Homo sapiens: one gene and its partner. The protein of the gene in region 1 interacts with the protein of each later gene in a pairwise test. Each region holds a gene or a part of one and is shown on either strand. Other genes may lie near its edges.

Region 1 (3,909 bases):
CCTGAGTAGCTGGGACTACAGGCGCACACCACCATCCTCAGCTAATTTGAAAATTTTTTTGTAGAGTAGGCCGAGCACGGTGGCTCACGTCTGTAATCCCAGCACTTTGGGAGGCTGAGGCGGGTGGATCGCCTGAGACCAGCCTAGCCAACATGGCAAAACCCCGTCTCTATTAAAAATACAAAAATTAGCCGGGCATGGTGGCACAGGCCTGTAATCTCAGCTGCTTGGAAGGCTGAGGCACGATAATCGCTTGAACCCAGGAGGCTGAGAGATCGTGCCACTGCACTCCAGTCTGCACTCTGTCTCACACAAAAAAATAAAACAATAATAATAATAATTTCTGTAAAGACAGGTTTTTGCTATATTGCCCAGGATGTTCTCAAGTGATCCTCCCACAATGGCTTCCCAAAGTGCTGGGATTACAGGTGTGAGCCACCGTGCCCAGCCAGTGAACATTTTGAAATATCTGCCTTGTGTTAACTGGGTGTCTGTCCTTTCTCTTTTCAGTTGACTCTCTGTCTTGAAAGCCAACTGATATTTCAAAAATGAACATCAATGCATAGCTCCAGTTTAAAGACTTCAGTGACTCCCTGCCACCTCCACCCTGATCTAAGGGATTCAGGCTATCTGCCATTCAAGGCTTTTTGCAATCTGCTCCCGATTCCCCTTTCCAGTCAACTTGCATTTGATATCTCTGACTCACTCGTCCCTCAAAGCACCATGTATTTTCACAGCGCTCTGCTTCTGTGCTCAGGTTTTTCACTTTTGTATAATGTTCTCCTGTTATTCCCATGACTTCTAATCAAATCTACCTCTTTGAAGTTTTCCGGGTCTCCTGCCTTACCTGGTGCAGAATTAAATGCTTTCTCCATTCTGTCCCTCTGACCCTTCCCCGGCAAATCAGGGCTTGTTCTAAACTTGTCTCCTTCTGCCTCTACTGAGAAGTTTCCTTGTCATATTTACAAAAATAAGGGATATTGAAATGGAATAATCTCTGTAACTGACTCTTCAGATGCTTTCTAGAGGCGGTGAGATTTGAAGAAGGAATAAGATTTGCATACATAGAGAGTAGACATTTCAGGTGATATAAATTCTGGAAATAGGCATGATATGCAAGCCTGATGTATTCTCTTGATTGAACTGGAGGGTGCTGTTGGGGAATAGTGGTAAATAAGGTTGAAGAAGTTGTAGTGTTGAAATCGGGACAAGAACTTACACGTTTTATAGGGTGGACAGCAGAAGACTAGTTGAGGCTCTTTTTGTTCATTTAACTTATTTCTCTGTTAACAGAACTTTGGCGTGTTTATTAATTTTTTTGTAATAATTTTCAAAACAAGTGGGGAACAGTGGTATGCACCTGTAATCCCAGCTACTCAGGAGACTGAGGCAGGAGGATTGCTTGAGTCCAGTAGTTTAAGACCAGCCTGGGCAGCAAAGCGAGACCCCATCTCAAAAACAAAACACACACACACACACACACACACACACACACACACACACACACACACACCCCAAATTGCAAAGCAACGGAATAGTATTTAAGAAATATTATAAAATTTTACATAAATGTAAAATACAGCTTGTTATTTTATCAGCCTATCACACACTTTCATTTTCTTTTTATCTTTCATATGAATATTTGACCTCTTCCAAGTTTTTTTGTTTTTGTTTTTGTTTTTTTTTTTTTGAGACGGAGTCTTGCTCTATCACCCAGCTGGAGTGCAGTGGGGAGATCTCGGCTCACTGCAAGTTCCGCCTCCCGGATTCTCGCCATTCTCCTGCCTCAGTCTCCTGAGTAGCTGGGACTACTGGCGCCCGCCACCACGCCCGGCTAATTTTTTTTGGATTTTTAGTAGATACGGGATTTCACCGTGTTGGCCAGGTTGGTCTTGATCTCCTGACATCGTGATCCGCCCGCCTCGCCCTCCCAAAGTGCTGGGATTACAGGCATGAGCCACCGCGCCCGGCCCCCTCTTCCAAGTTTTTACTCAAAACTTCATTCTCAAGGAGGCCTTACCTGGTCATCTTAATTTGAATAGTGAAACACATACTCCTTATCTCCCTTGCCTGTTTATTTTTCTCCATCCCACTTTCTTTCATATGATTGTACAATATATTTTACTTATTCGCAATGCTTATTGTCTGTCATCTCCATTAGAGTGTAAACTCCAAGAAGTACTCAATAAATATTTGAATGAATGAATGAGTGAATGTATTACAGCATTGCTGTTATAATATCTGCTGTATTGTATATTTTTCCATTTTCACTTAATAGTCTGTCAGGTTTTCATCTGTTTTTCATAATTATACTTTTTGACAGTTACATTTGAGTGTATAGAATTAATTATACAATAATGGATTAAATCATGCGCCTAACGACATTTTGCTTTTATTTGTTTCTGTTCAATTCGTGGCTTAGTGTAATAAATTCCTGGAAGAAGAATTACACCTTTAAAGGATGTAAGGATTTTTTAGGGTTTTTTTTTTTTTTTTTTTTTTTTTGAGATGGAGTTTAGCTTTGTTGCCTAGGCTGGCGTCAAACTCCTGGGCTCAAGTGACTTCCTGCATTAGCCTCATGAGTAGCTGGGATTACAGGTGAGTGCTACCATGCCTGGCAGATGTAAGGATTTTTTTTTTTTTCAAGACAGAGTCTCGCTCTGTCACCCAGGCTGGAGTGCAGTGGTGCGATCTCAGCTCACTGCAAGCTCCGCCTCCCGGGTTCATGCCATTCTCCTGCCTCAGCCTCCCGAGTAGCTGGGACTACAGGCACCCCCCACCACGCCTGGCTAATTTTTTTGTATTTTTAGTAGAGACGGGGTTTCACCGTGTTAGCCAGGATGGTCTCGATCTCCTAACCTCGTGATCTGCCTGCCTCGGCCTCCCAAAGTGCTGGGATTATAGGCGTGAGCCACCACACCTGGCCAGATGTAAGGATTTTTATGGCACTTGCTCATAATAGGGAAGTGAGCATTTCTCTCCCTCCCTCTCTCTTTCTTTCTGACAAATACTTTTGTGCCCGTATATATAAATGCATTGTCCTTCAAATACTTTAGGCCCTGTCCTTGAAGCAGGGTAACCTGGGGCATTAATATATAAACAACAATTGCAATAAAATAATGAGATAAGTGCTAAGCAGATGTGTCAGAGGACAGACAGGTAGGGAGAATTAGAGAAAGTTTTCTGTGAGAGATCACAGCATTTAAACTGAGCGGTGAAGGACTTAAGTAGGCATAAGTGGGGAAACAGCATGAGTTAGAGGACAGAGATCTGAAATTGCAAGACATCTGTTGAGGCATCAAGAAGAGGGCTTGGGCCGGGCGCGGTGGCTCATGCCTGTAATCCCAGCACTTGAGGCTGAAGCAGGCGGATCACGAGGTCAGGAGATCGAGACCATCCTGGCTAACACAGTGAAACCCTGTCTCTACTAAAAATACAAAAAATTAGCTGGGTGTGGTGGCGTGCACCTGTAGTCCCAGCTACTCGGGAGACTGAGGCAGGAGAATCTCTTGAACCCGGGAGGCAGAGGTTGCAGTGATCCGAGACCATGCCACTGCACTCCAGCCTGGGCAACAGAGCGAGACTGTCTCAAAAAAAAAAAAAAAAAAAAAGAAGAGGACCTGAAGTGTAGAGTGGGAAATGAAGGCGGACAGGTAGCTTGGGGCATTGCACTGGGCCTCAGATGCTTTGCTAACATGTTTGGATTTTAGTCTGTACACAATACACAAAGGTGTTGTTTAAAGGTTGTGTCTCATTCCTTTGTAGCTGGGTAACCTCAGATAAGCTACTTAACCTCTCTGACTCTTAGTTTTCTCATCTGTAAAGTTGGAACAGCACAACTACTTAGCTAGATTATAAAGGAATAAAGAGATAATGGATATGAAGTTCTTAGCAGGATGCCTGATGCAC
Region 2 (3,909 bases), on another chromosome or scaffold:
TGTGACCGAGCTCTTTTTTTCTGGCCCCTCCATGTGCCAGCTCTTTGGCCTTGTTATCGCTGTGGCTTGGAGGAGTTCAGTAACCTTCCCCTAGAGGCCACAAGGCCAGGCAGTGCCTGGAGTTGACAGCAGGGACTCAGGAGGCCCCGTGGGCCAGGATTTCCTGGCTGCTGGGCCCATTCCCACCCTCCTGTCCAGGAAGTGGGGGCGAGTGTGTCATGGCTGGGGAAATAGGCCCCCATGCTGTGGTGACTGCCAGGCCAGCAGGGGAGTGGGGATCTGAACCAAACCCACGGGCAACAATGCCTCCTATCCCATGGGGTGCCTCCCATCTGTCAGGGGTCACCTAGTGTACCCCATGCATTGTCTCAGGGGACCGTCACAGTCCTGGGAGGTAGTCTGCTTCCTACCTGCCCCCTTCTGAGGCCTAGAGAGAGGTGACATGCCTGGGGTCCCCCAGGGACTACAAGGCAGGGCTGGTTACGGTTCCCGAGTGCAGGCCACCAAGCCCCCTTGTCTCCCGCTGTCGTTGGGAATGTGCAGGAGGGGTACCCAGCTTCTCTGGCTTGACCGTGGTGCCCTCATCTTCAGGATGGGCCCTAGCTGCCGTGGCCCGGTCTCCCTGGGCTCTGGGTGGGTGGGCCTGCCCTGGGATGGCCCCAGCCCAGAGGTTTGTTTCTGAGCATTGTGTCCTGCTCCTTTTCCTCAGGCAGCCTCTGGGGGCCCCCGCTGGGTTTCTGTGGGTAGGAAGGGTCCCCCAAGAATTGCTGGCTGGTGGCTGACTTGGGATCAGGCCTGCCTGCTTGCCACGACCCCTGTATAATAGGATTGCACTGACCCCTGCATAGGGTGGGTCAGATCCCCGGGGGCTGCCTCCCTCCAGCCCTGCCCCTCTGCACCCCCATCGTTCATCACTGGCCTGGGGGCTCAGGGAGGGCTGGGCCAGACTCCTACCTCAGGGGCTGGCACAGGCCTGGCTCTTGGACGCAGGAAGCGCCGGGCTTTAGTGGGGCGCAGGTCCTGGGTGAGGGTGCAGTGTTTGGGCTGACTCAGTGGAAAGCCTGCCCCACAGGTGGCTATAAGGTGAGAAGTGGGTGGGGAGGAAGGTTGGGGAGACCTCATCAGCCCAAGCTGGAGGCGGTTGCCTAAAACTTCCACACACCCCGATCCTTTCCACACTTCGAGAGAGGCTCTCTGCACCCATAACTCCAGAATCTGTCACCTCCCTGGTAACACAAATGCACAAGGAAAATAATCCAAAGTGTCTCTTACAGCTCAGAAGGGGAAATGGATGATCTGTCTCGCGGATTCTCAAAATAGCTGGGATTTCTCCAAGCCCAGTGAACTCCCTAGGCCTGAGCTGCGGGCTGGGGCCTGCACGGCCCGCTGGCCTCTCACTCTCCTCTAGCCACTGGCTCTGTGCAGGGCGGGGGCTGGGAGGTGTTGTCATGCCTGCCCCTGGGGCTTTCCCTGTGCTGGTGCCGTTGAGGGTTTTGAGGTGACCACTCAAAAGCTGCTTTCAGGGCAGCCTGGCTCCCCGGGGAGACTCCCAAGCCCCCCTCAGAGAAGGTCTGTGGCATGGCTCCTGGGGGGCGCAGTCTGGGGTGGTTTTATATTTAGCTGGGCTGTGGCTGTGGTTGCCACTCGGGTTACATCTGGCACAGAAGTCGGCAGTGCCAGGGCCGGCACGGGCTCCTTTCCAGCACCGCGGCAGAATTTGATCGCGCTTGCCCGGCCCAGGGCTGCTTCCCGTGGGGAGGTCGGTGGTGGGGGCTGACGGCCGGCAGCTGGGGCTGCTGGCCACCGTGGGCAGAGCCGAGTGGCAGGGCTGGTGGCAGGCGGCATGGACTTGAACTTGAGCTTGTTGGCCCGGGAGGCCACCCCAGGCCTCCTCCCTGGCCTCAATGGGCTCCCCAGGCCCACACCCCCAAAGGTGGCCAAGAAACCTAAAAAGGCTGTTCTCTTCTTCGAGGTGGAGATTCTGGACGCAAAGACAAGGGAGAAGCTGTGTTTCTTGGACAAGGTAGGACTGGGGCGTGGGCTGCACTGGGCCAAGGGCACTGGGCCCGGGACCCCAATCCTTATAGCCCAGGAGCTGTCCAGTGGGGCCCTTTGTGCCCCACCCCCTGCCCTATGGAGGGGTATGCCCTCACTTGGGGTAGGGTGGATAGCCATGTCCCCTGGGTGTGGCGGGGAAATGGAGGCACAGGAGTCTCAGTGGACCCTGCGGGGATTTTGGTCCTGGGAGGGCGGTGGAGGAGTGAGCCTTGCCCCTGCTGAGGCCGGGCCTGGGGGAAGGGGCTTGCGCTGTCCCTGGGGAGGACAGAGGGCCTTTGCTCCTGGGAGAGTCATGGGTGAGAAGTGGAGAGGAGGGGCAGAGAAGCAGGCTTGCCTTCCCATGCTTAATCCGCCACTAGCCGGGCTGGGGGCCTGCTGGCTGAGGGTAAAAGTGGAGCCCCAGACCCCTGCTGTCACTGCACTGGCAGGGCCCTCGGTGGTCCTTCCCTGACTGCAGGCAGAGGCCTGGACCCCAGCCCTTCCCCCTTCCCATAGCTACAGCCCAACCCCCAGCCTGCCATCCCCTTTAGTACCTCCCCATCCTGAGTCTGGGCTCCCCGCAGAGCTGACGTCCCTGCGCCTGTGCTTCCCCCAGGTGGAGCCCCACGCCACCATTGCGGAGATCAAGAACCTCTTCACTAAGACCCGTGAGTTCTAGTCCCGGCCACACTGCCCCTGCAACCCCTTTGACCAGGGACCTTAGGGTGGGAGGGATCCCATCCTGCACCCCTCTCCCAGGGGCCTGCAGAGATGCCCCAGTGTGGCCCAGGCTTCTGGGGCGTGACTGGGGCAGGCGCCTCCACGTGGCACTCCGCAGGAACGCCCTTGCTAGGCTCTGGGAAGGACAAGATCCTGCTTCTGCCCGCGCTCTTCTGGCTTGTGTCCTGAAACCGCACAAGCCTGAGGGTTTGCCCCCAGGTGGGAGGAGCTGTGGAGTCCTGGGGTCCTTGCACCCTGGGAACCCTGAGAAGCTGGCACAGTGGCTGGGCAGCGGACCGGCTGAGCCCTGCCAGGCTGTGGGCTGTAACTGCCCTGTTCTCCCCGCAGATCCGCAGTGGTACCCCGCCCGCCAGTCCCTCCGCCTGGACCCCAGTGAGTACAGCTGTCCACTCGGCCCGCCCCCTGGGCTCCTGGGTGGCAGTGGGAGAAGGCCCGGGTAGCCCCTGAGCCCTGGCCCGCCTCTCTGCAGAGGGCAAGTCCCTGAAGGATGAGGATGTTCTGCAGAAGCTGCCCGTGGGCACCACGGCCACACTGTACTTCCGGGACCTGGGGGCCCAGATCAGCTGGGTGACGGTGAGTCCTGACCCTACCCACGGCCTCTTTTCCCGTCAGCCACGTTGGGTGACTCATCTTGCCCCCCTCTACTCTCAGGTCTTCCTAACAGAGTACGCGGGGCCCCTTTTCATCTACCTGCTCTTCTACTTCCGAGTGCCCTTCATCTATGGCCACAAATATGACTTTACGTCCAGTCGGCATACAGTGGTGCAGTAAGTGGGGCAGGTGGGAGGAGGGTAGGGGAAGGCAGAAGACCTGCCGGACCAGCCCCAGCTGAGCCTGCTCCCCCCGACCAGCCTCGCCTGCATCTGTCACTCATTCCACTACATCAAGCGCCTGCTGGAGACGCTCTTCGTGCACCGCTTCTCCCATGGCACTATGCCTTTGCGCAACATCTTCAAGGTGAGAGCCCGTCCCCGCCTCACCCCTAAGCCCCGCCTTTCTGCCCCACCCCGCCCCGCCCCCACCGAGCCCCACCCCAAGGCCCTTCCTGTCTGCCACTACGCCCCAGCAGAGCCCTACCCCTAGGCCCCGCCTAACCTCCCCAGCCCCGCCCTCGCAGAGCCTCTAGACCCC

What was found.
Region 2: the proteins of HACD1 (region 1) and TECR interact in binary tests that used the Homo sapiens proteins (3 or more experiments, as listed by UniProt).

What each region holds. Positions count from the first base shown.
Region 1 is NC_000010.11:17,610,702-17,614,610, reverse strand, and holds part of HACD1 (very-long-chain (3R)-3-hydroxyacyl-CoA dehydratase 1), read left to right. Parts: intron 1-3,909.
Region 2 is NC_000019.10:14,560,553-14,564,461, forward strand, and holds part of TECR (very-long-chain enoyl-CoA reductase), read left to right. Parts: intron 1-1,972; coding exon 1,973-2,023; intron 2,024-2,588; exon of another isoform or gene 2,589-2,621; coding exon of another isoform or gene 2,622-2,653; coding exon 2,654-2,705; intron 2,706-3,105; coding exon 3,106-3,150; intron 3,151-3,247; coding exon 3,248-3,351; intron 3,352-3,429; coding exon 3,430-3,545; intron 3,546-3,629; coding exon 3,630-3,735; intron 3,736-3,909. UniProt on the Homo sapiens protein: Involved in both the production of very long-chain fatty acids for sphingolipid synthesis and the degradation of the sphingosine moiety in sphingolipids through the sphingosine 1-phosphate metabolic pathway.